Regions from separate parts of the Homo sapiens genome. Here region 2 is linked to region 1. Evidence: fine-mapped expression QTL. A gene starts in region 1. The other region holds a variant in brackets. All regions are shown on one strand. Distances are between the middles of the regions. Region 1 holds the start of SLC35D3 (solute carrier family 35 member D3). Region 2 has its middle 34 kb from the start of SLC35D3.

Evidence for each region. PIP is the estimated chance that this variant, and not a neighbour inherited with it, causes the effect. A credible set is the group of variants that fine-mapping cannot tell apart.
Region 2: its variant is the best candidate, but not a certain one, in a credible set for the expression of SLC35D3 in whole blood (INTERVAL, PIP 0.78).

Annotation. Positions count from the first base shown.
Region 1 is chr6:136,920,144-136,925,515 of GRCh38, forward strand. It overlaps SLC35D3 (solute carrier family 35 member D3), which reads left to right and starts at 2,158. Exons shown (of 2, transcript NM_001008783.3): 1 at 2,158-2,724; 2 at 3,742-5,372. The coding sequence starts at 2,286. The coding sequence ends at 4,553. RefSeq lists an enhancer at 1,180-1,686.
Region 2 is chr6:136,953,855-136,959,226 of GRCh38, forward strand. No RefSeq gene overlaps it. Among named protein-coding and RNA genes, the nearest start is that of SLC35D3, 34 kb to the left of the region's middle. RefSeq lists enhancers at 2,704-3,272, 4,409-4,975 and a silencer at 3,437-3,731. The variant G/T (reference allele first, on the strand shown) is at 3,107.

The DNA of each region.
Region 1 (5,372 bases):
ATGCTTTTATTGGGATAGTCTCTAGAAGCAGAAATCTGTTATTTGCTGATATCTGTAAAAAGTTAATTTTCAGAGTTTTGAATCAATATATTTTGACTATACCACACACATACACATAATTTGAACTGGTGCTTCAGACTTCATTATTTCCTAAATAACATTAACTCTACAAAAACAGAGTCACTTAAACAGCCAATAGTGTGTAACCACAAGTTTTAGCAACAAAAACCAAGGGCTCCCCAGAGAACCGGAAGCACGTGTTTCAGTATAATGCTTTCCAGCTATTCCTGGAAAGTTGGCACCCTGGGCCATTCACAAACTTTTTTTGAGTGCCCACCTGTCGGGAGCAGGGACGTGGCCCTCCTAGGCACCGGGCACATAAGCTGGTGGACTGGTTGACCCCGAGCTCTCTAGAGCTCACCAAAGTGAGCATCCAGAGCCCCAAATGCTGGCCCAAATGAAGGGCTGCTGTGATGCTGCTGATCCCTGCTGTAATTTTTTTTTCTTCCTCTGTTGCGGTAAATCACGACTTCAGCACTTTGGCTGAAGTGTCGCGTTCAGCACAGAGGTGGAAGTAAGAGGCAGAAAACAGAAGAACCACGAGAGAAATGGATCCTGTCTATTAAGGCAACGTGATGCAGCGCTAAAAGGTTAGGAGGTTACGATTCCCGGGGCTAAGAGAAATAAACTGCTGGTGGTGAACGAAAGGGGTGCTGGAGCGCAGCGATCTCGAACCTTTCCCTTATAGCCAAACCCTGGCCAAGGCCACAAATTTCAAATCGCCTGAAAACCAAACTGTCTGGCGCTTAACGGTTACCTCGGCTGAGCGAAACCCTTGGCTGCTGCTGATTTAACTACAGGTCCGCGCGAGTTACTTTCCAGGGAACTGAATTCAGAACAAAGAGTTACCGAAGCCTTACTCCCTCTCCAAAATTAGAATTCCCTTTTTCTCTTAGTCATATAGGAAACACACAGTTCACAAGTCCTGTGGTGCAAAGGTGTGAACCCTGGCCCAGGGAGGTGGTGACTCTCCCCGCCCTCCGCCTGCCGGTTGTCCTGCTTCCGAAAGCAACCCACGACGGTCCCGCAGGGTGAGGGTTCCCTGGGATCAGTTCCCTGGGATCCGGAGAACGCCACGCGGAGTCTCCCTGCAGGGTGAGGGGCCCCGGGTTCCCGCCCCCTCCCCCTCTACTCTCCCATTCTGCGAGCGCAGCCAGCCTCCCCTCCCACGCTTCGGGAAGCGTCGCCCCCGAGCTCCTCGGTTCCTGGTGGTGGCTACTCGTGTTAGTGACTTCGTTTCTGCGCGTTTGCTTATTTTCATCTTTGCCTCAGTTCGAATGTGTCCCCGCCACCAGGCCCCGCTGCTGGGCGAGACCACTGAACCCCCTGAAAGCTTCCCCGGAGCCGCGCGCATAATCCCGGGACCCTCTCTGGAAGGCGTGCGGAGAGCGGTGCGCGTGGCCTGGCACCGGAAGGAGCCAGCTTCCGGGCTCCGAGGCACCCCCTGGACAGCGCCCCGGGCCGCGGGTTCCTCCTCCGATGCCCGGGCGTCGTCGCCGGGATCGGGAGCTTCGGGGGCCCGCCGGCACCGACGGTTTTCGCTTCCCTGGCGGGCAGCTGGACGAGGTCCCGCCGCTGCACCGGGAGGGACAGTGGGTGGAAAAAGCCGCTGCAGCGCCGGGGCGAGGGGGCTGGGGGCGCCGTCACTTGTTGCGACCAATAAACGGCGCTCGATCCTGATGCGCTGTTTCTAAAATCTTTAGCTGTGTCCCGATCCCTCCAACCCAAGCCCCTCGGCCAGGAGGAAGGGGCAAGCGAGAGCCGCTGGCTCTGTGGGGGGAGAGGGGCGCCGCGCCCCAAGAGCCCCCGTCCCGCCCTGCGGCAGCCGCCCCGGGGCGCCCAGCCGCCCGCTTCCCTCCGCAGAGCGTCTTCCCTGACGGTGAAACCGCGCGGGACACAACCCACCGCGGCTCATCACCCACTTACAAATAGCTGTCGCTAGGATTCCCGCCACTCCTCTCAGACCGGCCCCCCCGCCACCTCTGCCACTTTTCGGAGTCCCCCGCCCTCGTCACTGCCTCCCCGGAGCTGCGGGGCAGTCGGACGCAGAGCTGCCTAACCGCAAGAACGCCTGGCCGGAGCTGCCCTCTGCAGCCGAGCCGGCGCCCCCTGCCCTTCGCCGCCGCGCTGGGCGGGCGCCCCCGCCGCCCTCACTCCGCTGCTCCCGGCTCCTCGCGCGCAGGTCGCGGAGCTCCGCCACCGCTGGGTGCGGCGAGGCCGGCGCGATGCGGCAGCTGTGCCGGGGCCGCGTGCTGGGCATCTCGGTGGCCATCGCGCACGGGGTCTTCTCGGGCTCCCTCAACATCTTGCTCAAGTTCCTCATCAGCCGCTACCAGTTCTCCTTCCTGACCCTGGTGCAGTGCCTGACCAGCTCCACCGCGGCGCTGAGCCTGGAGCTGCTGCGGCGCCTCGGGCTCATCGCCGTGCCCCCCTTCGGTCTGAGCCTGGCGCGCTCCTTCGCGGGGGTCGCGGTGCTCTCCACGCTGCAGTCCAGCCTCACGCTCTGGTCCCTGCGCGGCCTCAGCCTGCCCATGTACGTGGTCTTCAAGCGCTGCCTGCCCCTGGTCACCATGCTCATCGGCGTCCTGGTGCTCAAGAACGGCGCGCCCTCGCCAGGGGTGCTGGCGGCGGTGCTCATCACCACCTGCGGCGCCGCCCTGGCAGGTGAGCGGGCCCCCGCGCCGACCCCCAGCCGACCCCACCCACCCCGCTCCGTCGGGCAGAGACCGCGGGGATCACTGAGTTCAACGACCTCACTTCCAGATGGGGAGACTGAGGCAGAGAGAGCCGGAGAGCTTTGAGAGTGGTCGCTCAGCTCGCAAAAGGGACTTCCGAGACCCAGAGAGCTCCCCAGCGCCCCACCAAGTCCCCCTGCCCCCTAATGTCCTGGCTTCCGACCCTCGCCCATGCTTCACCCGGCATCGCCCTTCCTGTCGCCCCCTCTCCTGGTCTTCCCCTGTCACCCCATTCTCCGGGAGAGGTGGGAGGGCCGCCTGAGCCTGGGAGCTGGAGTCCTCCAAGCCTGGACCAAGCCGGAAGGAGGGGGCCGTGAACTTCCTTGGGTCACGAGGGGCTGGAATGGAGGTGGGGGATGGGGGCGAAGCTGAGGGTTCCCGGGGCTACTGCGGGGTGTCTCGTGCTGCGCAGGGGGCTGCGGCCCTGGGGCAGACGACCCAGGTGCTGAGCGAGACGAGAGCCTGGGCAGGGGGAAGCTTCACTGGGGGCCAGAACAGGCGTTCTCCCCCGCGCCTGGCCCGCTCCGGGTTGCAGGCCACTGGCTGGGGCTCCCTCTCCCTTTGGTGCCCCACGGGGCAGGGGCTCCGGGGTGCAGGTACCACGCGCCCAAGTGACCTCGGTGCCAGCTCGGGGAAGCCACAGCACCTGCCCCGAGGGCATCTGCGCTCTCCGGGGCCTTTGTCTTGGACAGAGGAAGATGGAGTGACCCGGGGATATGGCGGGAAGGCGCTCTGAGCACTGAGTTTGGCTGTCGCATTTGACACGGGTGGCCGAGGGACGGCGGGCGTCTGTCACTCAGGAATCCGGTGGGCAGAGCTGGGGCGCGAACCCAGTCTCCTTTCCTACCCGACGCGTTTTCCCCGTGGGTCCCCGCCCACGCCAACCTGCTGTCTTCTCTCTTTTTCCTTCCCGCCCGGGCTCGGCCGTCCTCCTCGTGCGCCGCAGGAGCCGGCGACCTGACGGGCGACCCCATCGGGTACGTCACGGGAGTGCTGGCGGTGCTGGTGCACGCTGCCTACCTGGTGCTCATCCAGAAGGCCAGCGCAGACACCGAGCACGGGCCGCTCACCGCGCAGTACGTCATCGCCGTCTCTGCCACCCCGCTGCTGGTCATCTGCTCCTTCGCCAGCACCGACTCCATCCACGCCTGGACCTTCCCGGGCTGGAAGGACCCGGCCATGGTCTGCATCTTCGTGGCCTGCATCCTGATCGGCTGCGCCATGAACTTCACCACGCTGCACTGCACCTACATCAATTCGGCCGTGACCACCAGCTTCGTGGGTGTGGTGAAGAGCATCGCCACCATCACGGTGGGCATGGTGGCCTTCAGCGACGTGGAGCCCACCTCTCTGTTCATTGCCGGCGTGGTGGTGAACACCCTGGGCTCTATCATTTACTGTGTGGCCAAGTTCATGGAGACCAGAAAGCAAAGCAACTACGAGGACCTGGAGGCCCAGCCTCGGGGAGAGGAGGCGCAGCTAAGTGGAGACCAGCTGCCGTTCGTGATGGAGGAGCTGCCCGGGGAGGGAGGAAATGGCCGGTCAGAAGGTGGGGAGGCAGCAGGTGGCCCCGCTCAGGAGAGCAGGCAAGAGGTCAGGGGCAGCCCCCGAGGAGTCCCGCTGGTGGCTGGGAGCTCTGAAGAAGGGAGCAGGAGGTCGTTAAAAGATGCTTACCTCGAGGTATGGAGGTTGGTTAGGGGAACCAGGTATATGAAGAAGGATTATTTGATAGAAAACGAGGAGTTACCCAGTCCTTGAGAAGGAGGTGCATGTACGTACCTATGTGCATACACTTATTTTATATGTTAGAAATGACGTGTTTTAATGAGAGGCCTCCCCGTTTTATTCTTTGAGGAGTGGGGAAGGGAAGAAAAGAAAGAAGCTGAAAGGTACTGACACAGAGCAACAAAATTAGCACCTGTGTGAATTATTTAGTGTGACTTCACCTGAGGCATCACAGAGACAAAAGAATGTGAAGCTACTTAACAAAGTAAGGCAACGTTTCTGCTTCAGACTCCTGGCACATTTACTTTTTGTCATTATAACCATAACTAAATATCTGCATGTACCAAGAGTCCCTAAGCCACCCCCTCCAAAGATGGAGTGTAGAAATGATGACAGCACTTAGTAAGTTCAAAGATGACATTCAGGGATGCATTTTTTGATGATAGAACTACAGTTTTTATCGCCAGCTGGGCAAAGAGTATATTGCTGAAATGATATATAAATATATTGAATTGATGTTTACTGTTTATAGTCATCTGAAATATCATATTTACTCTGATTCTACTCACTTGTTTTTTAAAAATAAGTGTCCTATTATTGTATTATATATTGATAGAAACTGTTAAAGCTATTTTGAAAATATGAGTTCTTAGCTTTAATCATGAAGTCTGAAGTTTGCTTTCAGTAATTATTTTAAAAGTTGTTTTGGTTCATTGCTTTATAATATTTATTATTGAATGCCAAACCTGTTCTTTTTTTTACTGTGTCCAATATTCTTTCAAGCAAATGCAATGGCTGGAATATAATTCAGAATTAACTGAAACCCAGCCAGAAGAGGGACCACCTGTAAAG
Region 2 (5,372 bases), 34 kb after region 1:
TATAAATTGAAATAGATGTTCTATTTTCTTTGACCATAGGACTCCAAGTGTTTAAAGGTTTTCTTTTGGATTTAGTTATCATTACAATTGTTATTAGTACTCATAGGTCCTCAACATCATTATATTACAAGTATTAGTAGTTACTAAATATAAAGATACAATTCCATTAGAACCACATCTCTTAACAAGATAGGGCATTTAAAAAGTTATTTCATTGCAGGAGGAGCAGGATTAAAAAAGCAAAAAACAAAGTTATTTTATATATTCATGGATGAATATTACTTAGAAAAAGATAGGGTTCAGCTCCAATTCTCATAACATTTCTGACACAATAAAGAGAAGTATTCTGTGTCATGGGTCTTTTTGAACAATTAGTGTGCACTGGCCTTGAAATGTGCTTTCTCAGACAACATCTCATCGCCACTGGTATATTGCTAGTGCATTAGTGGACCAAATGATAGTAAAATCAGAAAGGCATAGGGTTACATTCCAATTCTCATCATATTTGTCATTTTTACATATGTAAGTGTTGAGAAACTTTGTTCACTAAAATAAGTAGTTGGAAATGAGAAGTGTTTTGTTGTAGGAAAGCCATTCACTTCTCCAAGTTATGTCCTAACAAAATCATATGGTGATATATTGTGAATTTTTTTGTTTGTTTGTTTGAGATGGAGTCTCACTCTTGTTGCCCAGGCTGGAGTGCAGTGTTGTGCTCTCGGCTCACTGCAACCTCCACCTCCCGGGTTCAAGCAATTCTCCTGCCTTAACCTCTTCAGTAGCTGGGACTAAGGCACCCACCACCACGCCCAGCTGATTTTTGTATTTTTAGTAGAGATGGGGTTTCACTGTGTTAGCCAGGATGGTCTCACTCTCCTGACCTCGTGATCCACCCGCCTTGGCCTCCCAAAGTGCTGGGATTACAGGCATGAGCCACCGAACCTAGCCAAAAATTTTTTAATGATTTATCAGCCCTTCCTCCAAATAGGTGGAAGCTACTTGACTTGGAAAAGGATTTGTTACCCAGTTGTTGGAGTCTTTTATGGTCTCAACACCAACACAAGGATTTCAGATTAATTTCATTTTGGGTACCTCAGAGGCTTTTAAGCCCTGAGGCATTCCATGGTGGCAAGTCCTGGTAGATGAGATGGGTGCCTTCCTTTTTATTCTTGTGAAGAAAGGGTGCCTGTGAAAGGGGAGATGGGAACAGAGAACCAGCAAGACACCTGAAACACACAGGCTCTTTCTCAGGAAGAATGGTTTTAGGCAGAAGCTCCTAAGGACGATGAGGATCTGGGAAGTGATTTCCATAATACGACATGTGCCTATTTTGAGGATCACCAATGTAGGGCATGATGGATGCATTAATGAAAAAGGTGGTAAGAACTCTTTTGAACGATAGGATGGGCAAGGATGGGAGTAGGGTGTAGAGAGGGCTGTGGGGGAAGAGGAAGGGAGTACCAGTCAAGTAGGGAAATAAGGGAGAACTGAAAGAGCACACAAGAGTTAATTCAGTTTTGACTGTGGCTGGCCCCTCTGTGTTATAAACTGACCATTGACTCACTCTCACCAGCACAACATTTAGAACCCAGTGTTTTTGTCTTGAGTTTTGTTTTGTCAATTAACACCAAAGCAGGCTAAATAATAATACATGTTTGGTTGTGAGACAGTGTGTTGGAGGGGCTGATTTTTATTCAGGGGTTTAATCAAGAAAGGAATTAAGATTAGAATTCAAGGTTTATAAATCAGGTGAAGATCAGAAGATAGGAAGGGGACAATTTGGAAAAAGGGGAGAGGACTTAAGATAAAGCCTGGGCACTTTGATTCTGTGTCCCCGGTTTCCATCATTAACATTGTTTTAGCTGCAAATGTTGCTTCCTCTTCCCAAATTAAATTAAACTGTCCTTAGAGCTGGAATAATGTAGTTCAGTTCTCTCTAAACTGGAGTATACTATCTCTCAGCACTTTCAAAATGGCTAAGGGTCTTTATTTTGTGTGTAACCTTATTTTGTGTGTAATACACATGAACATCTCGAGTGTCATTCAGAAACAGGCCATTTCTCGGATAAGTCTATTCATTTGCAAATTGACAGATCTCTATTAATAGCAAGAAATGTTTGCTATCAGGTTTACATTGTTACCAATGTAATTCAAAATCATCCTTGGTAAGATTAGGCTTTTTGCGTGGAAAATTAATTAAGTTAAAATTTAAAAGCCATCTTTGAATGAGACATGAGAAGTAAAACAACAAAATAAAAATTTAAAATCTTTGCATGAATTCAAAGTTCATGAAACTCTTAACTTATTTTGAGCACATAATTTTAAAATAAAAATATTTGAAAATTGGTTTTATATTTTTTAGCATAGCTTTTAACTATTCACTGGAATTGAGAAACTCACCTGCCTATTTGTAGAAATTCTGCTTTCTAAATATGGCTCCTAAGCATATATATGTAACTGATAGGTTTTTTTTTTTTGTTTCTTTGTTTTTTTAAACAGAGTCTCACTCTGTTTCAAAAAACAGTGACGTGATCTCAGGAGTGCAGTGATGTAATTTCAGCTCACTGCAACCTCCACCTCAGCCTCTCTAGTAGCTGGGACTACAGGCATGCGCCACCATGCCCGACTAATTTTTTTTTTTTTTTTTTTGTATTTTTAGTAGAGATGGGGTTTTGCCATGTTGTCCAGGCTGGTCTTGAACTCCTGGCCTCATGTGATCCACCCGCCTTGGCCTCCCAAAGTGCTGGGATTACAAGTGTGAGCCACTATGCCCGGCCTGTATCCCATTGTTAACATATATCTTTATGAAAGCAAAAGCAAATGTTATAGTCACACAATTATAGAATAATGTCATGTATATAATTTCTATTTAAATGTAAAGTCAAAAAAGTCCTCTGAGATGGAGCCTTCCCTTATGAAATGCTCTACCCTGCTCCTGGCTGATGGCAACCAGATCATATTTCAAACTGCTAATCAAGTTGTTAATTTATAAAATCGAGTAGATGGGAAAAGGTTTCTACTTTGGCTTTGACTTTAATTATGTTAACTTTTTCCTTTCTCTCCTAAAATACAACTTGTTAGCAAATGCCACCTAAATGGTACTTCCTTT[G/T]TGACTTCGCAGCTGTCATTGTTATGCATTCATCAGGCCGGAAGTGCTCTTCTGTGTATTTTTGGAAAGCTATTCATCTGTTTTAGCTAAACAAACAGAGCTGTTTAAGCTGTTAAAATACAGTACCATAGTTATTTGTTTTTGCATCTTCGAGTTGCATGTAAATGAAAGGTTCGGGCTAATTGGTTCTAGGAATAGTATCCAAAGCAGTTCTAGAGAATTTCTCCCGGTAATTAAGTGGAATGCACTCTGGGACTCTAGTCGGCCTCACACAGAAGGGCCTCTTGGCTTTCCTTGTGGCTGTTTGTGCTTATCTCAGCCAGCTCAGTGGTTGTGGGTAGTGGGCTGTGGGCTGTGGGCTGGGGTGGTTAGGAGGGGAGGAAGAAAAAAGTTAATTACGGCCCAATGCAGGCCGACTGGAGCTCAAGGAGGAGGCACTGCAATGGAGAAAGAGGAGCTGGGGCAGGGCCGGCTGCATAGGCCTGCGACTAGTGCTGGCACACAGCCTCTGAGCCCAGAAGGGGGCCCCGCACTCCCAATGTCTGCAGCCACCGTCTTGGAATTCTGATTTATCTTTGAATACATGGTGTCTTTTAAGTGAAGTCCTAATGGGATGATGGAGCAGAAGCTGGGACCTTGGAGCCTCCCGCCACCTCCCTGCCTTTCCTGGCCCTGGCTGCAGGCTCCCCTTCCACCCCCCTGCCTTTCCTGGCCCTGGCTGCAGGCTCCCCTTCCACCCCCCCACCCACCCACCCAGTCCCAGGCTCTCCCCCACCATCCACCCACCCAGTCCCAGGCTCCCCCACCACCGCCCACCCAGCCCCAGGCTCCCTTCCCACCCACCCACCCAGTCCCAGACTCCCCCACCACCTACCCACCCACTCTCAGACTCCCCTACCACCTACCCATGCAGCCCCAGGCTCCCCTCCCACCCCCCACCCAGTCCCAGGCTCCCCCCGACCACCCAGTCCCGGGTTCCCCCACCATCCACCCACCCAGTTCCAGGTTCCCCCACTGCAACCACCCCCTGCCCCAGTGCAGGCCCTGGTGGTCTCATGCGCATGCTCACCCCCTGCCCCCCACGCCAACCCCTTGCTTCTGAGGATCTGCACTCACCTTGCAGTATTGTGCCGGTGGGCGTGTGGCATTACATAGCAAATTACAAGCACCAGGAAGGGGCAAGAGAGAAACCGTGAGGGGGAGAAAGAAAAATCCTTTCTCTTGGTTTTTGCAAAAGGGACCCCACATTGTCATTTTTCACTAAGCCCTGAAAAGTAAGTAGCAGTCAGGAGCCAATGCACTGGTTCACCACCAAAGCCGGCAACTCAAAAAGCCCAAAGGAAGGCAATCTTGCCAACAACCAGAACGCTCCTAAGAACCTGCAGGAGCTTGACATCCACAGGTGAAGTCAAAGTTTCTCCGGCCAGAGTAAGCATCTAGGCGATTAAGCAGCATCCAGGTGGGGGTGCCTGTGACACCTGGAGCCCCAGAGGGCTTGTTACAGTGCTCTTTTAGCTCTGGGCTCTAGCGCTTGGGCTTCAGCTCTTAAAAGCCATGAATAGAGTAAGGATGAACTACAGGGTGTGGGGATAGAATAAGGGACTTAGTTTTTCAGAGAAGTTAAATGATGTAGAGTTTAGACTCTGATGCCAGGTGGTCATGGTTCAAATCCCTTTCATCCATTAATACCATGACCTTGGCCAAGTCACTCAATTATTCTGAGCTGCCAGATAAGGATCTGTGGAATCATTTCTTGATGAGTCTGATATTTTGCTTCTTTCCCATCTTTTCAGTTATTAAAAATTAAATAAAGTTATTATTTAAAAAGTGGAAATACTTCAATTTAGTCATATTTCTATCTGGTTAGGTTACAATGCCTTATTTCCCTCTATTGATGTCAGTCATGCTTCTGGTGGTTGCACGACAATCCTAATATAAGTGAACATAGGTATAATCTTGGCATCGAGAATGCCATTTATATGCATGATAGGGACGGGGGCAGAGAAATTCTAGGCAGAAAAGTGTGGTCCCTGACGAAATCTCACCCTCAAGCCAAAAAGCCTGAAACCCGTGGTCCAAAGTGAGAACTTCTATCCCTGTTTTCCCATGTGAATGCTGCCTTTCCCTAAACTACCTATGGCCCACTCTGCCCCTATCCTGTGCATAGAAGACTCCAGACTCAGCCAACAGAGAGGAGAAGCAGCTGGGCGTTGGGGTCTAGGGCTGGAAGTTGGAGAGAAGCAGCTTGACTTCAGAGGGACAGCTT